Linked DNA regions of Homo sapiens: region 2 is linked to region 1. The links come from fine-mapping of genetic effects on plasma protein levels. A gene starts in region 1. The other region holds a variant in brackets. All regions are shown on one strand. Distances are between the middles of the regions.

Region 1 (6,998 bases):
TAAAGACTCAAGATCAGTAACATGTAATTATCATCTGGTTTGGGCGGAGAGCTCTAATAGTTTCCAGAAAAACACAAGCCATGAACAGGGAGTGCGCCTTCCAAGGCAAAAGGAGATGAGGACTCCAGCAGGCAGTGGTGCCATCTTGGAAGTCTTGTGGCCTTTGAGGCCCTTTCCAGGCAGAGTAAGGAGGCACAGCAACTGCTGAATAAATGAACCCCGTGAATGGACACACCTGAAGGCACAGAGGAGGTATCTTTGCTCCTTTCTTGGGGACACCAGGGAACCTTGAAATGGCAGAGATAGCTAGGTCTCTGCCAATATCTACTGTCCCCCATTTTAAAGTCATAGAACCCCAATTTTAGCTGAGCACATGGTGACCCACAATACAGACCATCTTTCCAGGCCTCCCCTTACAGATAAGAGCCACAAGACTGACCAATGGGGTATTAGTGGAATGTGTGTGCAACTTGTAAGATGCGTGCTTAAAGGGAGATATCTGCCCTTGTTCCCTTTCCTACTCCCTGCTGGAAGGAATGCAGATGTAATGGCTGGAGCTTAGCAGCCATTCTAAAATGTAAGGCAAACTTGAGAATGAAGGCCACAAATGGCAGACCGACAATGTAGAAGGACCCCAGGTCACCACACTAAACCTGGAATGCCTACAACTCTTTCAAGAAAAAGACACAACTCTATTGTTTTAGCCACTGGTATTTAGGCTTAAAGATAATCCTTAGGGTCAAACTCAACTTAAACAGCTCTTAAATAGAGAAGAGAAATAAAGGCAATCTAAGTATTTAAAAGTAAGACTCCCACTCAGTGGGTGACAAGCACATAGCAGATTCCTGGCTTCATCTCCAGATGTGCCATGGAATGCAAAGAAAGGTGGAACCTACCCACGTGAAATGTTTTCTTCTTTTTGTCTATTGCTCTCTTTTGTTTGTTTGCTGTCTAAAGAGATACTGTGGAGATGCATCATGTTTTCTAACTTATGCAAATGTTGTGAGCACATACTAAGTGTCAAAAATGCTTTTTCTTAGTATCTCTGCTTTATAGTTAAAGAAACCGCGGCTCAGAGAGGTAGCGCCACACAGCTGGGAAGGAGAACCTGCCCTGGAGAAGAGACAAGACAGAATCCTTGTCCAGGGAACTTCCCGAGGCGCTTGGTCTCCACTGGCATGGTGGTCCCTGCTACAGACTCCTAAAAATGGCTCAGGCCCAGAGGGGCTCCATGTGCCTTCAGGATGTGGCCACGGGGACAGAAAGGGGTCATCCAAGCACAGTCTGGATGGAGACCAGCCGTGAGGGGCACCAGCCTCCTCCCTGCAGCAGAAGCCATCTTCCTAGAAGTAAGGCTGGCACCCAAGACCAAGCTAACATCCCTCAACCTGACCTGCAAGCCCACCAGGGACCTGGGGTCAAGGCCTGAGCTGCAGAGGCCAGGGAAGGAAGGGGAGAAGCTAGCATGGGCCCTGGAGATGGGGGGAGAGAGAGTTTCCCCACGGGGGAGTGGTGGGCTGTGTCAAGACCAACACTGGGAGGCCAGGCCGGAAGAGCACAAAGAACTGCCTGGAGGCTTCACAGAGAAACAGCTGGAATCTGACTCCTTCCAGGAAAGATGAGTGAAGAAACCACGATGAGTGACTGAAGAGACAGGAAGAATAAAGGATGATGCAGGACAAGGCAGTGGGAGGGGTGGGCACGTCTTGGAGCTGTGATTCATCAAGTCTGGAGTCCAACCATGGGTTGGGGTAGGAGCTCCTCCCTGCAGATCAGAGGGAACTTGAAGCCAAGGTGCGCCCAAGCCCAGGTTGGTGAGCGGCATCACCTGGTGGCCAGTTCGGGCGTGGCACCCCAGACACCCAAGGGACTCAGCCTTGCAGGGCTCAGCCGGAGCCCCTTCCGGAGGGCACCTTCATCATCTCCCTCAGCACCCCACCTACCCCCCCATTTAAAGAGCACTATTGTTATTTCATAGGGTGATACCTGCAGTTTTCGCTTTTACATAAAAGGAGAATAAAAGCATCCTGCAGTTTGCTGTTATTGACTTGCCCCAGACTTACTGGTTCTCCACCTGGAAGCAGGAAAAGTCACCCAGGAGCATAAAAAATCTCACCCTCGGGCCCCAGCCGCAGAGGTTGGAGTTGACTAGTCTGGGCCGGCCTGGGCATTGAGACTTTTTTTTTGCTTCAAACACTTAACATGCAGGCAGGGCGGAAGACCTGGGCTCCAGGTGCTCGCTCTGCAAAGACAGATAGCTTCAGGATAAACCTCCGGACCCCCTTTCCATTTGTATTTGCCGCTAAGCTGCTCCTTATGCATAAATGGGGTCTGCAAGGAGCACAGACGTCTCTAGCCCTCCCAGCCCTCTGCAGATGAGACACAGACCCCAAGTCCAGGGACTTCCAGGGCTGAGCTCTCAACCCCCTTGGCTGCCAAAAGCTGGGGGGCCTTGTACACAGCATTCACCTCTGTGGGCCTCAGTTCCTCCTTCTGTGATCTGGAAGAGAACAGTGGCTCTGAGTTTTTCTGAGGTCACTGGCCCTTTTGAGAATTATGTAAGCAACGGGTCCTCTCCCAGAAGCATTCCTGTGAGGTGACCACGGTGCCCGTGACTACGGATGGCTCTGGGGCTCTAGCCCGACAGCTGGGCTGTATCAGCCCCTTAGGTCCTCACCTCGACCCCATGCGCTAGGTCCTTTGATTAAGTCCTTTTACACATGGGGAAACTGAGGCACAGAGGGGTTAAATAATTTGTCCGAGGTCACACAGCCGGTAAATGGCGGAGCCAGGTTTGGACCCAAGCATGCTGACCCAGGCTTGCATTCCGAACCACTCGGCTGCTGACCCCAGGCATCTGACTCTGGAATTAATAAGCAAGTTTTATGATGAGGCGGGGAACTCCACGCCATCTGTGCACTAAGGGTGATTCACCAGTGACTTCTGGGTGTTATAGATCAGGAAACACAATTGGGGAATGGACAGGACAAGCTCTGTCATGGACTCTGTGTGGCCTTGGACAAGTGATCTTGCCTTTCTAGCCTCAGTTTCCCCCCTGAGAAGAAGACAGAACTGGCCCCTACCCTGTAGATGGGTTGGAGGAGCACTTGAGATTGGAAAACGCATAATAGGTGTTCATTAAAGAGGCTCACATGGATACACACAAGAACAATCTCAGGGCCTTCACGCACCTAAATGTTCTGCCCCTAGTGTGGGCAAGGGAAACAAACTGGAAGAAGACAAGAAAAGCCACTGAGAGCTGGGGACGGTGCCTCTGTAGCACCTGTGAGTCCCCGAGGAGGAAGTACTACAGGAACCAGCGGGGCCGGGCGTGGGGGCTTGCGGCTGGAATCCCAGCACTGTGGGAGGCCAAGGCAGGCAGATCGCTTGAGCCCAGGAGTTTGAGACCAGCCTGGGCAACACGATGAAACCCCATCTCTACAGAAAATACAAAAATTAGCCGGGCATGGTGGTCTAGGCCTGTGGTCCCAGCTACTAGGGAGGCTGAGAGGTGGGAGGATCGCTGGAGTCCGGAAGGTCGAGGCTGCCGTGAGCCGTGATCACGCCACTGCACTCCAGCCTGGATGACAGAAACCCTGTCTCAAAAACAAACAAAAACACAGAAACCAGATAACCAGCCCCAGCCCCTCACATCATCAGAGTGATGCCACGCCCTGGCATCCCCCTCCACGTGGTGCATGCTCTTTTTTTTATTTTTATTTTCTTCAGTTCTCTGATGCTGATTCAGAAAATAAAAATGTAGAGGTCCAGGTGGGCTGTGCCTGGAACGGGGAAGGTGAGGGAAGTCCTCTGTCTCAAAGGCCTCTTCGGAGGACGCTCTGGTCTTGCCAAGTTTACAGCTCCTCCCTGTCAACATCAAGTCAGGTCCCCAACTCTGTCTTGCTCATCCACCTGGCTTCCACTTTTTTTTTCTTTCAAAAGACGAACAGAGAAGTTTCATTTTCTTTTTCTCCTGAAACCGAATCTGGCCGGCCTGGCTAGGCATCTATTTCCGGGCTGTAAGCAGCTGACACCTGCCCAGTGGAAGCTGGCATCCCTCCCCTTGTGGGTTCAGAGCTGCAAGAAGCACCAGGCTCGGCCACTTCAGAAGCCCCAGCCTCGACCTAGCCCACCCTCTCAGGGCCACAGTGCAGAAGCCTGCACACCTGCCAAGTCTCTCCGACTCCTTGCAGCTGCTGTCAGCATGGCCCAGGCTCCTGCTGACCCGGGCAGAGAAGGTACAGTACTTCTTCCTTCCAAGGACCAGCGGTAGCTCCCGGGGTGAGATTTCTACTTCTCTTTCCTCCTGTTTCGCTTGGTCCAGATCATGATGACAATAGCAGTATCCTAAAGAATAGTAGACCAGCTGGGCGTGGTGGCTCACGCCTGTAATCCCAGCACTTTGGGAGGCGAGGTAGGTGGACTGTTTAAGCTCAGGAGTTTGACACTAGCCTGGCCAACATGGCGAAACCCCATCTCTACTAAAATTACAAAAATTAACCGGGCATGGTGGCGCATGCCTGTGATCCCAGCTACTCGGGATGCTGAGGCTGGAGAATCGCTTGAACCCGGGAGGTGGAAGTTGTAGTGAGCTGAGATGTCGCCATTGCACTCCAGACTGGGTGACAGAGTGAGATTCCATCTCAGAAAAAAAAAAAAAAAATAGAAAGGGACAGCATAGCCATCCCCCTTTGACAGCTGACTGTGCCCCAGGCACCTCGAAACATGCTTTCCAAGCATTTCCTGATGGCCTGCAGGGACAAGTGCCATGTCATTCCCATTTTATAGATAACTGAGGCCCTGAGAGGTGAAATGACACTCTCAGGGTAACACAGCTGGCGAACGCTGGTGTTAGCGTCTGAACACCCATGTCACAGTCATATCGAGAACAAAGCGGTTTGCTTTGATGAGATACATGTGTGCCTTTGTTCCCCCTTGTTGCATCCTTTCCTCAACTAACATTTCATTCATTTTATTCCTGGAAGAGTTGCAATGAAAGCCAATAGTGTATCGAGTAATTGCTGTTCTCTAGGGTCTCCACTAAGCGCTGTGGACTGTAGGTGAAGTGTGGTTTTGCGGTTTGGGGGATGTGTTTGTTTTGTTTTTAATCCTCACCACAATCTTTGAAGTAGTTATTACTGTCTCCATTTCACAGAAGAGGAACCTGAAGCCGGAGGGGAGGTCACACAGCTAGTAGTTGGCAGGGCTAGGAGCTCAAACCCAGGAAATCAGCCATCAGAATTTTAAAAAACCAACACAGAGTGTGCCCCGGGAGGGCTAATGTCAGGGTGTGGCCCAGGAGCCGGGCTGACCGCGGAGGTCCTGTGGAGCTTCCTCTTCGGGGACTCACGGGTGCTGACGCAGGTTCCGGACTCAGCCCTCGCTGGCTTTTCTTGTCTTCCTCCCCAGTTGATTTTCCTTTTGTGACCAAATTGTTGCCTACACCTGCTCCATTTTACAATTTCCCATTTTCAGACACAGTAGCCTGGGACTCAGCAGTCGAGGCCAGCCCAGGGCCAGTGCTTGTCCTGCATCCACACCTCTGACCCCCATCTCCTCTGGGGTGTGTGGAGCCGAGGCAGTGGCTCCCTAAGGTCAGCCTTCCAGAATCAAAACTGCGGCCAGGCGCAGTGGCTCACGCCTGCAATCCCAGCACTTTGGGAGGCTGAGTTGCGGGGATCACCCAAGGTCAGGAGTTTGACACCAGCCTGGCCAAAAAGGGAAACCCTGTCTCTACTAAAAATACAAAAATCAGCCGGGTGTAGTGGTGCGTGCCTGTAATCTCAGCTACTTGAGAGACTGAGGCAAGAGAATTGCTTGAACCCAGGAGGTGGAGGTTGCAGTGAGCCGAGATCACACCACTGCAGCCGCAGACCAGGCAACAAGAACGAAATTCCATCTCAAAACCAAAAAACAAAAAACTCTGCGAGACAAGGTGAAGCCAGGTGTGAAGTCAGGTGCATGGAGGTGCTGCTGGCTGCCGGTGGGGGAGTTTGGTGGGCGCAGGAGTGGGAATTCCCAGGTCTTCTAATTGGTCTTCACCTGCACACGGCAAGCCGGTCAGCGTTGTAACCATCAGGGTGAGGCACAAACTGATTCTTCCCTCCCCTACAAGTGCTGTGACCAAGGAACCCTGGGCAAACCTGGAGAATCCTCTGAACAGGAAAGAAAGCCCAGATGACAAAGGACTGAGTCACTGTCCTGGAAGGGGAACTCAGGTCTTTCCAAGAAGGGCTCTCCCATGCACTGCCCTCAGGTTCCTTGAAGCAGAAGCTTCCTGGTGACAGGTGGGGCCCCCGCCCACAGTGGCTCTCCCAGGCTGCTGGCTGCCAGGTGCTGCCCGTAACCTGCGTCTGCCCCAGCCTCATCTCTGGGCAGAGCAGCTGGCTTTGATCTTTTAATCATTGTGTGAGCTAATGGTTTTGATTTTTAAGAGCTGCCTCAGGAGGAGCAGGGGCCATTTGGAGAATTCCTCCTTGAACCTCTTGGGGTCCTGCTTAGTCCTCATTAAACTCAGGCCAGGAAACAGCAGCACATTGCCAACTGGCCAAGGAGAAGCTACCCGGGCCCTGCCCAGGGTCTATTGGGTAAACGTCTGTCCCTAGAGACAGACACTCACTCATTCAGTCCTTTTTTTTTTTTTTTCCAGAGATGGGGTCTTGTCCAGGCTGGAGTGCAGTGGTGCATTCATAGCTCACTGCAACTGCTACCTCCTAGATTCAAGCGATCCTCCCACTTTTAGCCTCTTAAGCAGCTGGGACTACAGGCATATGCCATCGTACCTACCTGATTTTTCTCTTTTTTTGTAGAGATGGGGGTCTCACTATGTTGCCCAGGCTGGTCTAGAACTCCTGGCCTCTAGGGGTCCTCCCATCTCAGCCTTCTGATGTGCTAGGATTACAAGTGTGAGCCACCACTCCTGGCCCCATTCATTCATTCATTCATTCACTCAGTCACTCATACATTCAACTGCCATTTCCTGAGCACCTACTGTGTGC
Region 2 (12,920 bases), 17 kb after region 1:
GGGCAGAGCCAGATGGCAGGAGCTGGGGCCAGGCTGGGAGCCCCCATAAGATTTCAACCAAAAGTGGGGGCCAGTGTTCCAGTGCAGTGGGAAGCAGGCAGCAGAGGAGAGAGGAGCTGAATCCCAGAGGAAGACACTGACGTCCAGATCAGCCGGGCGGGATCAGTGGGGCAGACCCACTGCGGGATCAGTGGAGCAGAAAGACGCTTCCCAGACAGCACAACAGCACGAGCGGAGGTGTGGCGGGTGGAGGTGTGGCGGGCAGGCACAGGCTGTGCTCCTGGGATGGTGTGGGCCACTGGTGGGAGATCTGGGGAGGAGGGTGAACCAGGCTGGGGGTCAGGGTTCCCGGCCACTGTCCAGCTGCTCCTGGCTCCAGGCCTCTCTCCCTTTGACCCACAGTCTCTGCCACTGCTGCCGGCCCAGAAGCTTCGTTTGAAGCAAGAATTCCCAGTCCAGGAACTCACCCTGAGGGGGAAGCCGCCCAGAGAATCCACATGAAATCGTGCTTTCTCGAGGACGCCACCATCGGCAACAGCAACAAAATGTCTATCAGCCCAGGGGTGGCTGGCCCAGGAGGAGTCGCAGGGTCTGGAGAGGGGGAGCCAGGGGAGGACGCAGGTGAGCTAGGGGGCAGAGTGGACCCCTGTGTGTTCTCTCTCTCTCCCCACCTTCCACTCATTCATTCATTCACTCTCATCGATCATTCGCTAATCTCTGGTTTCCCGGAGTCTGGAGGCTGTGCCCACCCACAGCGAGGAGCAGCAGCTCTAGAGTCAGCGTGGAGGCTCCGTCCCCCTAGTGGAGGGACCCACCCAAGTCATTTCACCCAGGAGCCTCTGTCTCCTTAGCTGTAAAGTGGGATGGCAAGAATAGCCTGAAGCAACTCCTACAGTGGTTGCAAGACTGGGGTAAAATCTGAAGGCGAAGCTCAGCCCTACACCAGCCCTGCCAGCATTCAGGAGATAGGAGTGTTATTGTCTCATCATTGTTGTGGTGATTGTTTTGGGCCCGAGAGAGGTGCTGGGTTGCCATGCAAATAAGGTTCTGCATCAGGGCACAGGCTGACCTGCTGCAGTGGAGATGCCACACACGGTGGCCCCGCCTGCTTGAAGCCCAAGTCTCATGTCCGGGTGAGGGTAGCAGACCAGGGTTTCTTTTACCTCAGTGCTGAGTCGTCCCTTGGGCTCCGTCCTCATCTGTGGGGTTGAACTTAGCACCAGCAAGCAGAGGGGCGAGAGAGGGTACAGAGAGCCGCTGTTGTCTTTGACCAAGCCCACCCACTGCATCTGTGCTGTTCTGAGGGCCTGCACTTAGCCACGGGGGGTCTGGGAAGTGCCGCCTGTGTCAAGGCAGTCTAAGCCCAGCAGAGACTCAGGGGAGGGGGCTCCACTGCCAACAGGAAGAGGGGAGAGGGGAAACCAGTGCGGTTCACCGTCCCAGCCACCGTTTGGTCCCTGGAAGCTGCACAGGCTGGTTGCAGAGCCTGAGGATTCCAACTCTGCAGAAGGGAGCTCGGGGCCTCGGGTGGGGGCAGCTGGAGAGTTGGGCAGGTCCACGCAAGGTGGGGAGGGCCAGGGCAGGTGTACCTGGTGGGTGGAACAGTGTGGACAATGGCCTGGAGGTGAGGACATGACAGTGTGGGAACCCACAGGGGTTTGAGGGTGACCTGAGCATGGAGAGCAGAGCCAGGGCCTGGCTCCAGGCTGCAGTCGATGCTAAGGCAATTGGAAGCCATGGGGGGCTTTGAGCAGGAGAGGGGCTGGATGAGATTTTTGCCTCCCATGTGAAAAAAGAATTAGAAGGCGGATTTCCGCTCCTACCCTTTTGGGATCTGGAATAAGGAATCACACCCAGTCCCACCAATGGGTAGAAAACATGGATTCACGGAATCTGGAGGACTGGCCGGCATCCACCCTCCAGTGCCTGAAGGCCCAGGGGATGCATGTCCTGGAAGTCCAGAGGGTCTCCTCACCCCAAGGGCCGTGTCCTTGCTGTCCCAGCAACTGAGGAGACCCTGGCCCCACGTGTCTTCAAACTCTCCCTCCAGGACCCCTGGGAGCCCCATGCACATGTGACACCTGCAGAACGGGGACCAGGAGCGCATTCCTCAGGACTCAGGCCATGAGCATCTGGGAGCATGGACTTCCTTCCAGCAGCAAAGGGAGTCTCTGAGACCTCCAAGGCCACTGGGGACCCTTGGGAGGGCATGTGCCACCAGATGGGGATCCGGCTTAGGACCCCACAGCACAGGCTGTCTGCAGAGCCCTGTGGGTCTCAAGCCAGACCATTGAAGACTTCTCTTTCCGGAAAGAACACAGCACTGTGTTTTTTAAAAATAGCCACACTTCTGGGTGTAGTGGCTCATGCCTGTAATCCCAGCACTTTGGGAGGCCGAGGCAGGTGGATCACGAGGTCAGGAGATCGAGACCATCCTGGCTAACACGGTGAAACCCTCTCTCTACTAAAAAATACAAAAAATTAGCCAGGCATGGTGGCGGGCACATGTAGTCCCAGCTACTCAGGAGGCTGAGGCAGGAGAATGGCGTAAACCTGGGAGGCGGAGCTTGCAGTGAGCCAAGATCATGCCACTGCACTCCAGCCTGGGCGACAGAGCAAGACTCTGTCTCAAAAAAAAAAAATGGTCACACTCCCAGATTTGCCCTGCAACATCCTGACATTCTTCCCTAAGGTTCTAGCAGAAGAGCTGATGACATCTTTGCCCCTTGCCCTGACCCACCCACCTCTCTTTGTCCCCAAGAGACATCAATAGGCATAGCTCAGAGATATTATGGGTGAGTTCCAGAACACCCCAATAAAGCAAGTCATGCAAATTTTTGATTTCCCAGTGCATATACAAGTTATATTCACACGATGCTCTAGTCTATTAGGTGTGCACTGAATCACGTTATATCTAAAAAACAATGTACATACCTTAATTTTAAAATACTTTATTGCTAAAAATGCTAACCATCACCTGTCTTCTGCCAGTCATCATCTCTATGCTGGTGGAGGTCTTGCCTTGATGTTGATGGCTGCTGACTGATCAGGGTGGTGGTTGCTGAAGGTGGAGGCAGCTGTGGCAATTTCTTAAAATAAGGCAACAATGAAGTTCGCTGCAGCAATGAACTCTTCCTTTCATGAAAGCTTTCTCTGTAGCATGCAATGCTGTTTGATGGCATTTTACTCATACTAGAACTTCTTTCAAAATTGGAACCAAGACTCCCCAACCCTGCTGCTGCTTTACCAACTAGGTTTATATAGCAGTCTAAATCCTTTGTTGTCATTTCAAGAATGTTCGCAGTATCTTCACCAGGAATAGATGCCATCTCAAGAAACCACTTTCTTTGCTCATCCATAAGAAGCAACTCATCTGTTCAAGCTTTCTCATGAGATTGCAGCAATTCAGTCCCATCTTCATATTCCACTTCTAATTTGTGTTTTCCTGCTATTTCCACCACATTTGCAGTTGCTGCCTTCACTGAAGTCTTGAACCCCTCAAAGTCATTCATGAAATTTGGAATCAACTTCTTCCAGACTCCTGTGAATGTTGATAGTTTGACCTCCTCCCATGAATCACAAATGTTCTTAACGGCATGTAGATTGGTGATCTTTTCCAGAAGATTTTCAACTTACTTTGCCCAGATCCATCTGAGGAATCACTCTGTGTTGCACTTATGCCCTCATAAAATATATTTATTGAAGAATAAGAAGTGAATGTTGAAGTTACTCCTTAATCCATGGGCTGCAGAATGGATGCTGTGCTAGCAGGCATGAAAACAATGTTAATTCTTTTTTACATCTCCATCAGAGCCCGTGGATGAACAGGTGCATTGTCAACGAGTAGTAAAAAAAAAATTTTTTTTTGGCCCTCAATCCAGGATGCGGAACACTCAGATCCTGTGGTATGGACGATGAGCAGTGAAATGTTCAAAGGAATATTTTGTTTTCTAAGCAGTAAGTCTCAATGCTAGGCTTAAAATATTCAGTAAACCAAGCTATATACAGGTGCTCTCATCTAGCTTTGTTGCTTCATTCATAGAACATAGGCAGAGTCGATTTAGCATCATTCTTAAGGGCCCTAGAATTTCCAAAATGGTAATTGAGGAGAGGCTTCAGCTGAAAGTCACCAGCTACATTAATCTCCAACAAGAGAGCCTGTCCCCTTTGAAGCTTTGAAGCCAGGCATTGACATCTCCTTTCGAGTTATGAAAGTTCTAGATGACATCTTTTTTCAATAGAAGGCTGTTTCATCTACATTAAGAACCTGCTCTGTTGTGTAGTCACGCTCATCAATGATCTTAGCTAGAGCTTCCGGGTAACCTGCTGCAGCTTCTCCATCAGCACTTGCTGCTTCACCTCACACTTGCATGTTATGGGGACGGTTTCTTTCCTTAAACCTCATGAACCAACCTCTGCTCACTTCCAACTATTCTTCTGCAGCTTCCTCACCTCTCTCAGCCTTTAGAATTGAATAGAGCAAGGGCCTTGCCCTAGACGAGGCTTAGGTTTAAGAGATTGTTGTAGCTGGCTCGATCCTCTATCCAGACCACTAAAACTTTCTCCACACTAGCCACAAGGCTGGTTCACTTTCTCATCACTCATGTGTTTGCTGAAGTAAGACTTTTAATATCCTTCAAGACCCTTTCCTTTGCCTTCACAATTTGGCTAACTTTTGACCTAGCTTTCAACTTGTCTTAGCTTTGGACATGCCTCCCTCACCAAGCTTAATCATTTCTCACTTTTGATTTAAAGTGAGAGACGTGCAACTCTTCCTTTCACTTTAGCACATAGAGGCCGTTTGGGGTTATTTATTTATTTATTTATTTATTTTTGAGATGGAGTTTTGCTCTCGTTGTCTAGGCTGGAGTGCAATGGCACAATCTTGGCTCACTGCAACCTCCACCTCCCAGGTTCAAGGGATTCTTTTGCTTCAGCCTCCTGGGTCGCTGTGATTACAGACCTGCACCACCACGCCTGGCTAACTTTGTATTTTTAGTAGAGATGGGGTTTCTCCATGTAGGTCAGGCTGGTCTTGAACTCCCAACCTCAGGTGATCTGCCCACCTCAGCCTCCCAAAGTGTTGGGATTCTAGGTGTGACCCACGGCGCCCGGCCCATTGTAGGGTTATGAATTTTCCTAATTTCAATATTGTTGTGTCTTCAAGGAATAGGGAGGCCTGAGGAGAGGGAGAGAGAGGAGGAGATGGCTGATCAGTGACAGGTTAGAGCACACAGATTTATTAATTAACTTCGTCATCTTCTACAGGTGATATTTGTGGCACCCCAAAGCAAAGCAATTATAATAGCAACATCAAAGATCACTGGTCACAGATCACCATAACACATATAATCAAAATGAAAAAGTGTGAAATATTGTGAGGATTACCAAAATGTGACGCAGAGACAGGAAGTGAGCATATGCTGCTGGAAAAATTGGCACTGATAGACTCGCTTCACACAGGGTGCCACAAACCTTCAACTTGTGAAAAATGAGTGCAATATCTATGAAGTGTAATAAACCAAAGTACAATAAGGTAAAGTGAGATAAAATGAGGTCTGCCTGTCACTTCCTCCTTGAGTGGCGGGCGGGACCTTATCCTGAGATGTGTAAGGCCTGGAATGGTTTTTGTTTTGTTTTGTTTTGTTTTGTTTTGTTTTGTTTGAGGAAATTGCTAATCAGAGACTGTCAGTGCCAGAGCATGTAGAGCCGTCTTTTGGGGTCCCTGGGAGGACTGGGAGAGCCCTGGGATGGGGGCTTTCTGGTGTTATTTCTGCTCCTCCATCTCACTGCTGTGAAACTAGGACAGGACTGGCTACATGATCTGGGGGCCCAGTGCAAAGTGAAAAGGTGGGGCTCCCTGTTCAAGACTTTGTACAAATCTAAAGACAGTAACAACAAAGGCTCAAGCTGAGCTCGAAATCCTTCCAAGAGCGGGTCCCTGTGGAAA[T/C]GCCCAGGCCACGTGCCCATGAAGCTGATCCCCCATCTTCTCTTCCCTAGGTCGTCGTCCCGCAGACACACAATCCAGAAGTCACTTTCCTCGAGACATTGGTCAGCCCATCACTCCCAGCCACTCGAAGCTCACCCCCAAGCTGGAAACTATGACTCTTGGAAACAGGAGTCACAAAGCTGCAGAAGGCAGCCACTATGTGGATGAAGCCTCACACGAGGGGAGCTGGTGGGGAGGTGGGATTTAGTGCACAGCCTCACGTGGGGCTTGGACACAGGCTGGGGGTGGGCGCATGCTAGGGAGACTAGCCTGCTGCTCTCTGCATTCCTTAGCGTCTTGTTTGACCTGCTTGCTTCCAGACATAACCTGCATGAATCAGTTTTGGGGGAATGGACCTGGCATGGGGATGGGTTCAGGCCAGGTCTTTTGATGGCCAGGAGTAGATGACAGGGAGTTGCCTTGGGGAACCTTTGGTGTGCCAAGAGGAGGTGGGTAGATGGGAGTGGGGCTCGGTCCCCCAGGCCCAGGGGACTCTCTCCACTCTTTCCTGGGCTCGGGGCATCTGCCTGGAGTTACCTTCCATCATGGCTACCTGCTGTGGTTTGAATGTTTGAGTCCCAACAAAATTCATATCAAAACATAATCCCAACTGGGTGCAGTGGCTCACGCCTGTAATCCCAGCACTTTGGGAGGCCGAGGCGGGCGGATCAATAGGTCAGGAAATCCAGACCGTCCTGGCTAACATGGTGAAACCCCGTCTCTACTAAAAAAAAAAATACAAAAAATTAGCCGGGCGTTGTGGCGGGCACCTGGAGTCCCAGCTACTCCGGAGGCTGAGGGAGGAGAATGGTGTGAACCCGGGAGGTGGAGCTTCCAGTGAGCCGAGATCGCGCCACTGCACTCCAGGCTGGGCGACAGAGCGAGACTCCGTCTCAAAAAAATAAATACATAAATAAAAAATAAACCAACCATAATCCCCAGTGCAGTGGTATGAAGAGATGGGGCCTTTTGGAGGGGATGGAGTCAGGAGGGCGAGTGGGATTGTGGGATTAGCGCTGCCATGAAAGGGCTTGAGGGAGCCTGTTAGTCCCGCTTGCCTGTCCGCCATGTGAGGATGCAGTAACAAAGTGCCATCCTTAAAGCCGAGACCAACCCCTCATCAGACACTGACTCTGCTGGCACCTTGATCTTGGCCTTCCCAGACCCCGAAACTGTAAGCAATAAATTCCTGTTGCTTATAAATTACCCAGGGTGAGGCATTTTTTTATAGCAGCCTGAGCCAACTGAAACACTGCCCCACTCTCTCCTCACCTGAGGTCTCACTTCCTCAAGGCCCATTGTGGCCACCTGACCTCCTTATCACCCGACCTTTCTAGAATCTTCTCTCCTCAGCCTTGATCTCTCAGGATCTTTTAGCTGGACTCCCAAAGAGAAAATTCTTTCCCACCCCGACCCTGGGTCCCCAGGCCCTGGTGGAAGTCATTGGCTGACCCATGGGTCAGGTGACCTCTTCTGGCCAATCAGCAGGGAGTGCTTGTGGATTAGCCCATTTTCACGCTGCCGATAAAGATATACCCAAGACGGGGTAATTTATAGGCAAAAAGAAGTTTAACGGACTCACACTTCCACGTGGCTGGGGAGGCCTCACAATCACGGTGGAAGGCGAAAGGCACGTCTTACATGGCAGCAGGCAAGAGAGAGAATGAGAGCCAAGGGAAAGTGGCTTCCCTTATGGAGCCATCAGATCTCATAAGACTTACTTCACTACCAGGAGAACAGTATGGGGGAACCATCCCCATGATTCAATTATCTCCTGCTGAGTCTCTCCCACAACACATGGGAATTATGGGAGCTACAATTCAAGATGAGATTTGGGTGGGGACACAGCAAAACCATGTCAGCTTGTTATTTACCAGACCCCACCACCCCGCTAGGGGCTAAGTTCCCGTAGAAGGGCTATGGGCTCTGCAACATTTCTTGAACCATGGGGTGGGGTGGGTAGTGGAGGGATTTGGTGGGGCATGGTGGGAGGAAGATGGAGAGGGATAGAGGGAGGTGGTGATCAGCTGGGCAGGGTGATTGTGGAACAAGGACTGTGTCCGTCCTTCAGTGTGCACATAGGCACACACACATGCACACACAGGTGTACACACACACATGCACACACACAGGCACTCTGCTGCCCCCAACTCCAATGCCACACCCAGTCCTCAGGTGGGCGTTTGTCACACTCCACTCTGTCTCCTTCACTGGCCTTGGCATCTGACACCCAAAAGCTGATGCCCCTGGGGCTAATGTCTACCTTGGCGGGGAGGGGCTGGCTCATCACAGGGCCTCAGTAAAAACAGTTATTGAACAAATTCATATCTCCTTGCCCAACTCGACTGGGAGGATCTTTAGGGTGGATGCTTTGACATATTGGTCAGAACCTAGACTGATATATAGAACTTACAGTTCATCCCTTAAAGGGGATTCGTAAGACATTGTTTGAGCTCCTTGATCCAGTCATTCCTGAAGCAGAACCTATCCTAGCACTTACCCATTAGAAGAACTGAGATGTCCCCTTAGTGCTGAAGCCAGCTCCACTGGGATTTCCATTTCTGAAGGGCAGCTGCCCCCTCACCTCCCCTACCCACTCCCCTTAGCTCACTGCTACTCAACCTGAGGCATGACCTTACCGAGAGATTTCAGAGCTCCCAGGCTAGCTGGATGCCTCCTGTCTGCTTCTGAAGCCTCCTCTGCTCCCCATATCAAACCCACACTTCATTGCCCCAACATTGCCTTGTCATTAGTCTAGCTCTCGTCCATCGAGACTCATTTGGTCGTAGATGATAGAAAGCTGAGACCTGCTTCAGCACAAAAGGGGATGCACTGGATCTTCTAATAGACAAGCCCAGGCATAGAGCCTGCTTCAGGAATGTCTAGATCCAGGAGCTCAGGTGATCTCTTAGAACTCAGCCTCGCTCCACCCCCCTACTGCTTTCCTCTGTTTTCAATGATAGCCCCCAGCAGCTCCAGGCCCCCACACCACTAGCTTAGCTACCCAGTGGAGAGGGATGACTTTCCCGACAGCAAAAGCCACAACAGATGGCTTTATTTGTATGCCCATTCCCCACCAGTCATTGGCCAGAGCAATAGAATGCGGTGATTGGCCAACTGGTATCACATAGCTTATCTCTGGAACCAGGATGGGGAGCAGCCACCCCCAGTCACATGGCCTAAGGGTGATGGATCAGCTGTTTTCTAAATTTACCAGGAAAGGGATGCTGGACAGGCTAGAACCTCAGAAGTCCGCTACACTCCCCAGCTTTGAATGAGGAATTTACTGGACTCAGGGGCCCTGGCTTTCAACTCTTATACCTCCAGGGTCCAATGTATGCTGGACAAGGCCCTTCACTGACCACATCCTGCAGGCTAACTCCTGTGCTGGGCCCTTGGGCTACTGAGAGTGGGAGACAAAGCCCTGTCATTGATAGTGGCTCACAGTGAGTCAGGAGGGGAACGTACACAGGCAGGGAGTTCAGAGCAGGAACCATCACAGGGAATCATGGGAGTGTGGGACAGGGGCCCAGACACAGCCTAGAGGGGTCCAGAAGGCTTCCTGGAGGAGGAGGGAACTCTCAAGAGCACATTTTTCAAGACCAGGCAGAGGGAGGAGGCTGCGTAGGGTGGAAATGGTGCTCTAGGCAGGCCACAGCTGGAGTAAAGCCATGAAGATCAGAACCAGCTGAGTTATTCAGAGAACCACCGTGGTTTGGGTATTGCCGGAGAGCCCAGCACAAAGAAGAGTGGAGGGAGGCTGGCTGCGGAGGCAGGTGGGGACCAGACCATGGCCGCTTGGGAGTTTGGACCAGACACTGCTGTACAAGCCAGCCCACAGGGAGGACTGGGCAGACCTAGGCAACAAGGTCGGTACAGCCATTGGATTGACTCTGGGGGATAGGGTGTCTTGTCCCATGGACTGGAGCTGCTCAGCCATACTGTAGGCAAAGTTATCTCAACCACCATGCTGATCTGGGATCCCCAGAGTATTTTCTCATAGAGTACCCAGTTTGCAAACATGAGTCACTAGGCAGGAGGGGATGAGAATGGGGTTTGTCTATCTTTCTGGGCGTGTCTTCCTGCTGCATGGAGCTGCAAATCAGTTGCTTGCCTCCAAGTTTGGCCAAACTTTGTGGATAACCAGGCCCCCTGTCAATGAGGAATCAAAATGCAGCTTCCACCCCCAGGCTGAATCAGAATACTCATTTTCCCAGCAAGATTTTCCCTGTGTAATTAATTTGTCATAAATACGCTGACAAAGCATTGCTAGCAGTTAATGGGGGCCAGAGGTGAAGGTCAATGTTAGTCTCCTTGGGAAGGAAATTAACTAGATACCATTAAAAGCAGAGAATGATTAAGTCCATCCACCCCTCAGCCCGCGCTGTGTCTAGCCCGCCCACCCACCCCTCCCTTCTGCCATGGTGTGTGCAAACGGAGCTTGTAGCCCCCAGAACTCGATGCAGGGAGGAGGAATTTGCTCCAGGAGTTGGAAATGATTTTCTGAAACCACCAACCTGCTCACAGATGCAATTTTATGTTCTCATTCCAGCTGCTCTCCTCCTCTCTGGGTGACCCCAGACAGGACTCCTCACTTGTGAGATTTTACCAGGCAACCAAAATTGGATGCTTAGAGCAGGAAGAAGAGTCTACAGAGGGACTCACGGGCATTTTGGCTTTGAATGGCCGAAGCCTAGCTCCCCAGGCTCAGGCACAATGGTGAATGTATTTGCTCATGCAACTGGGGAATCAAGGGACACTCATGTTCAGGAATGGTTGGATCCAGAGGCTCAAGCCTTCCTTTCAGGCTTCTTTCTCTCCAGCTCTCTGCTCTCTGATGAGTCTCTCTCCACAGGGCCCCAGCCACCGAAGGCTCAAAAAAAAAAAAAAAAACAAAACAAAACCCTGCATGGGGAGTTGTGAGAATCTGAAGCCTGATACTGCACAGAAAACCTATGAAGCCACTGGGTCTGGCCTGGAATGGAAGGCTGAGTGAATGTGGGAAAAAATTTTCAAGTGGGAAAAATGAAACCAATAAGATTTTTAAAAATACAGTCGGTTATGTATGTGTGGGTTCTGAGGATCGAAAATATCTGAAAAACAAGATGACTGCATCTGTACTAAACACGTGTGGACTTTTTTGTCATTATTCCCTAAATGATACAGTATAACAACTATTTACATAGCATTCACATTGTTTTAGGTATTATAAGTAATCTAGAGATGATTTAAAGTATACAGGAGGATGTGCATAGGTTATATGCAAATACTATATCATCTCATATCAGGGACTTGAGTATCCATGGATTTTGTACCCACAGGGAGTCCTGGAGCCAATCCCCTGGGGATACTGGGGGACGACTGTATGTTTAGGCATCTGTTCAATATTGTAGGTGGGATGTTGCAGATCTATTTGTACTTTTGAATCAAAACAAAAAGCAGGTTTTTTTGTTGTTTTTTTTTTAGCGTGCTTATTGACTCACAAACTAGCAGTGTTCAGGTAAGGCCTCATCCAGCAGCTCAAACAATGTGGTTCAGGACCCACTGTCCCTCCATCTCTCTTCATGGCTTCCCACAGACTCAGCTTTTTCAGGCTCCACACGGAGACTTTCCAGCCACTAAGAGTTCTGCCCTGCTGGGGACAAAATGGCTGCAGTGGTTCCAGACCTCACATTCCCACAGGGGACAAAAGCAATTTCTAAACCACCCCAGTATTTGCCACCTCCAATTGGGCATGGGGATGAGAGTCATTAGCTGTAGCCAATCCAGGCTCACCCCTGAATTTGGGGGTGCTTAGAATGGTGTGGACCTTCTGTGACAAGGGCATTTTCTAAGCATTCTTTAATCCTCCCCTTAAGTACATGAGGAGACTGGGGCCAAGGGAGGGTAAGTGGCTTGCCCAAAGCCACATGGCTGACAAGTGAGACCCATGTTCAAAATTCCAGATTGAAAACCAGATTTTTCCAGTCCTGGTGGTCAACCCATCACGGAGGATTTAACACTCCCATCTGCCAGGCTGCTAGCTCCCACGGATGACAGCAGACTGGCACCCACCCACGGGCAGCCACATCACCTCAGATGGGGAGGGGCCAGCAGGACCAGGATTTTGCATTCCATGAAAACCCTCTTCTGCAAGAGCTCCTGTGAAACAAGGGTTCCTTGGACAGTTGTGGATACGCAGCATGATGCAGCCCCCGCTGCATGATTCCAAGGCAGCCCATTCAGGGAGGTGAAACTACTGCTCAAGGACAGAGATAGGATTCAAACCCACTCAGGGAGGTGAAACTACTGCCCAAGGACAGAGATAGGATTCAAACCCAGCCATCAGGCAGGCTTGCAAGCCAGTGCTCTTAAACATGTTACTGAAAAAGCTGCCTGGGACATATCACCGCGGCCTGGCTGTCACCTCCCAGCCCCTGGCTGGTCAGCTCCCCCACTGTGTCTCATTGACCTGCCCCCCACGCCCACCCCGGGGCACAGTGGCCTTTGCCACAATCAGCTGAATGCCCCCAGCTGCTGGAGAAGCAATCCAGCAGGGCCAGTGCCGGCAAAGCCCTGAAGGCGGGAGTGTCAGCTGGGGGGCCGGGGGTGGGGAAAGGGGGGAGGGGGTCTGGCGCCCCTGGCTACAGAGCTCGAGACAGGCCTGGCCCTCCCAGCTCCACCTGCAGGTCAGGGGTGTGGGGGGTGAACTGCGTGGCTGGGAGATCCTGGAGGTGAATCTTTGATCCCCCCATTTGTGTGACTCCTCTCTGCCCCCAGCATCTGGCTTACCGGCTCTGAACCTCTGTCTTTCCCTCTCACCTCCTCCTTCCTCTTAGATGGACCCCTGTGATGACATCGAGGCCACCCTGATAATGCAGGATGACCCCCCACCTCACTATCTTTAACTTAATCACCTCTGCAAAGTCTGTTTCTCCATGTAAGGTAACAT

Direction of the effects. Positions count from the first base shown, and alleles are read on the strand shown. Strength reflects both the effect of a copy and how common the allele is.
For the plasma level of the protein whose gene starts at base 4,074 in region 1, allele C in region 2 goes with a higher level than allele T (weak association).

The links. PIP is the posterior inclusion probability: the model's chance that the variant is causal. The UK Biobank Pharma Proteomics Project read protein levels with antibody pairs (Olink). The fine-mapping took linkage between variants from a reference panel, not from the people measured, so its PIPs are less certain.
Region 2: its variant is fine-mapped to the plasma level of the ZBP1 protein (UK Biobank, PIP 0.95).

What each region holds. Positions count from the first base shown.
Region 1 is chr20:57,617,502-57,624,499 of GRCh38, reverse strand. It overlaps ZBP1 (Z-DNA binding protein 1), which reads left to right and starts at 4,074. Exons shown (of 8, transcript NM_030776.3): 1 at 4,074-4,238. The coding sequence starts at 4,205. RefSeq lists enhancers at 3,825-4,114, 4,245-4,294, 5,375-5,484, 5,662-6,521.
Region 2 is chr20:57,597,850-57,610,769 of GRCh38, reverse strand. It overlaps ZBP1 (Z-DNA binding protein 1), which reads left to right. Exons shown (of 8, transcript NM_030776.3): 7 at 403-621; 8 at 6,001-6,918. The coding sequence ends at 6,197. Among named protein-coding and RNA genes, the nearest start is that of ZBP1, 16 kb to the left of the region's middle. The variant T/C (reference allele first, on the strand shown) is at 5,951.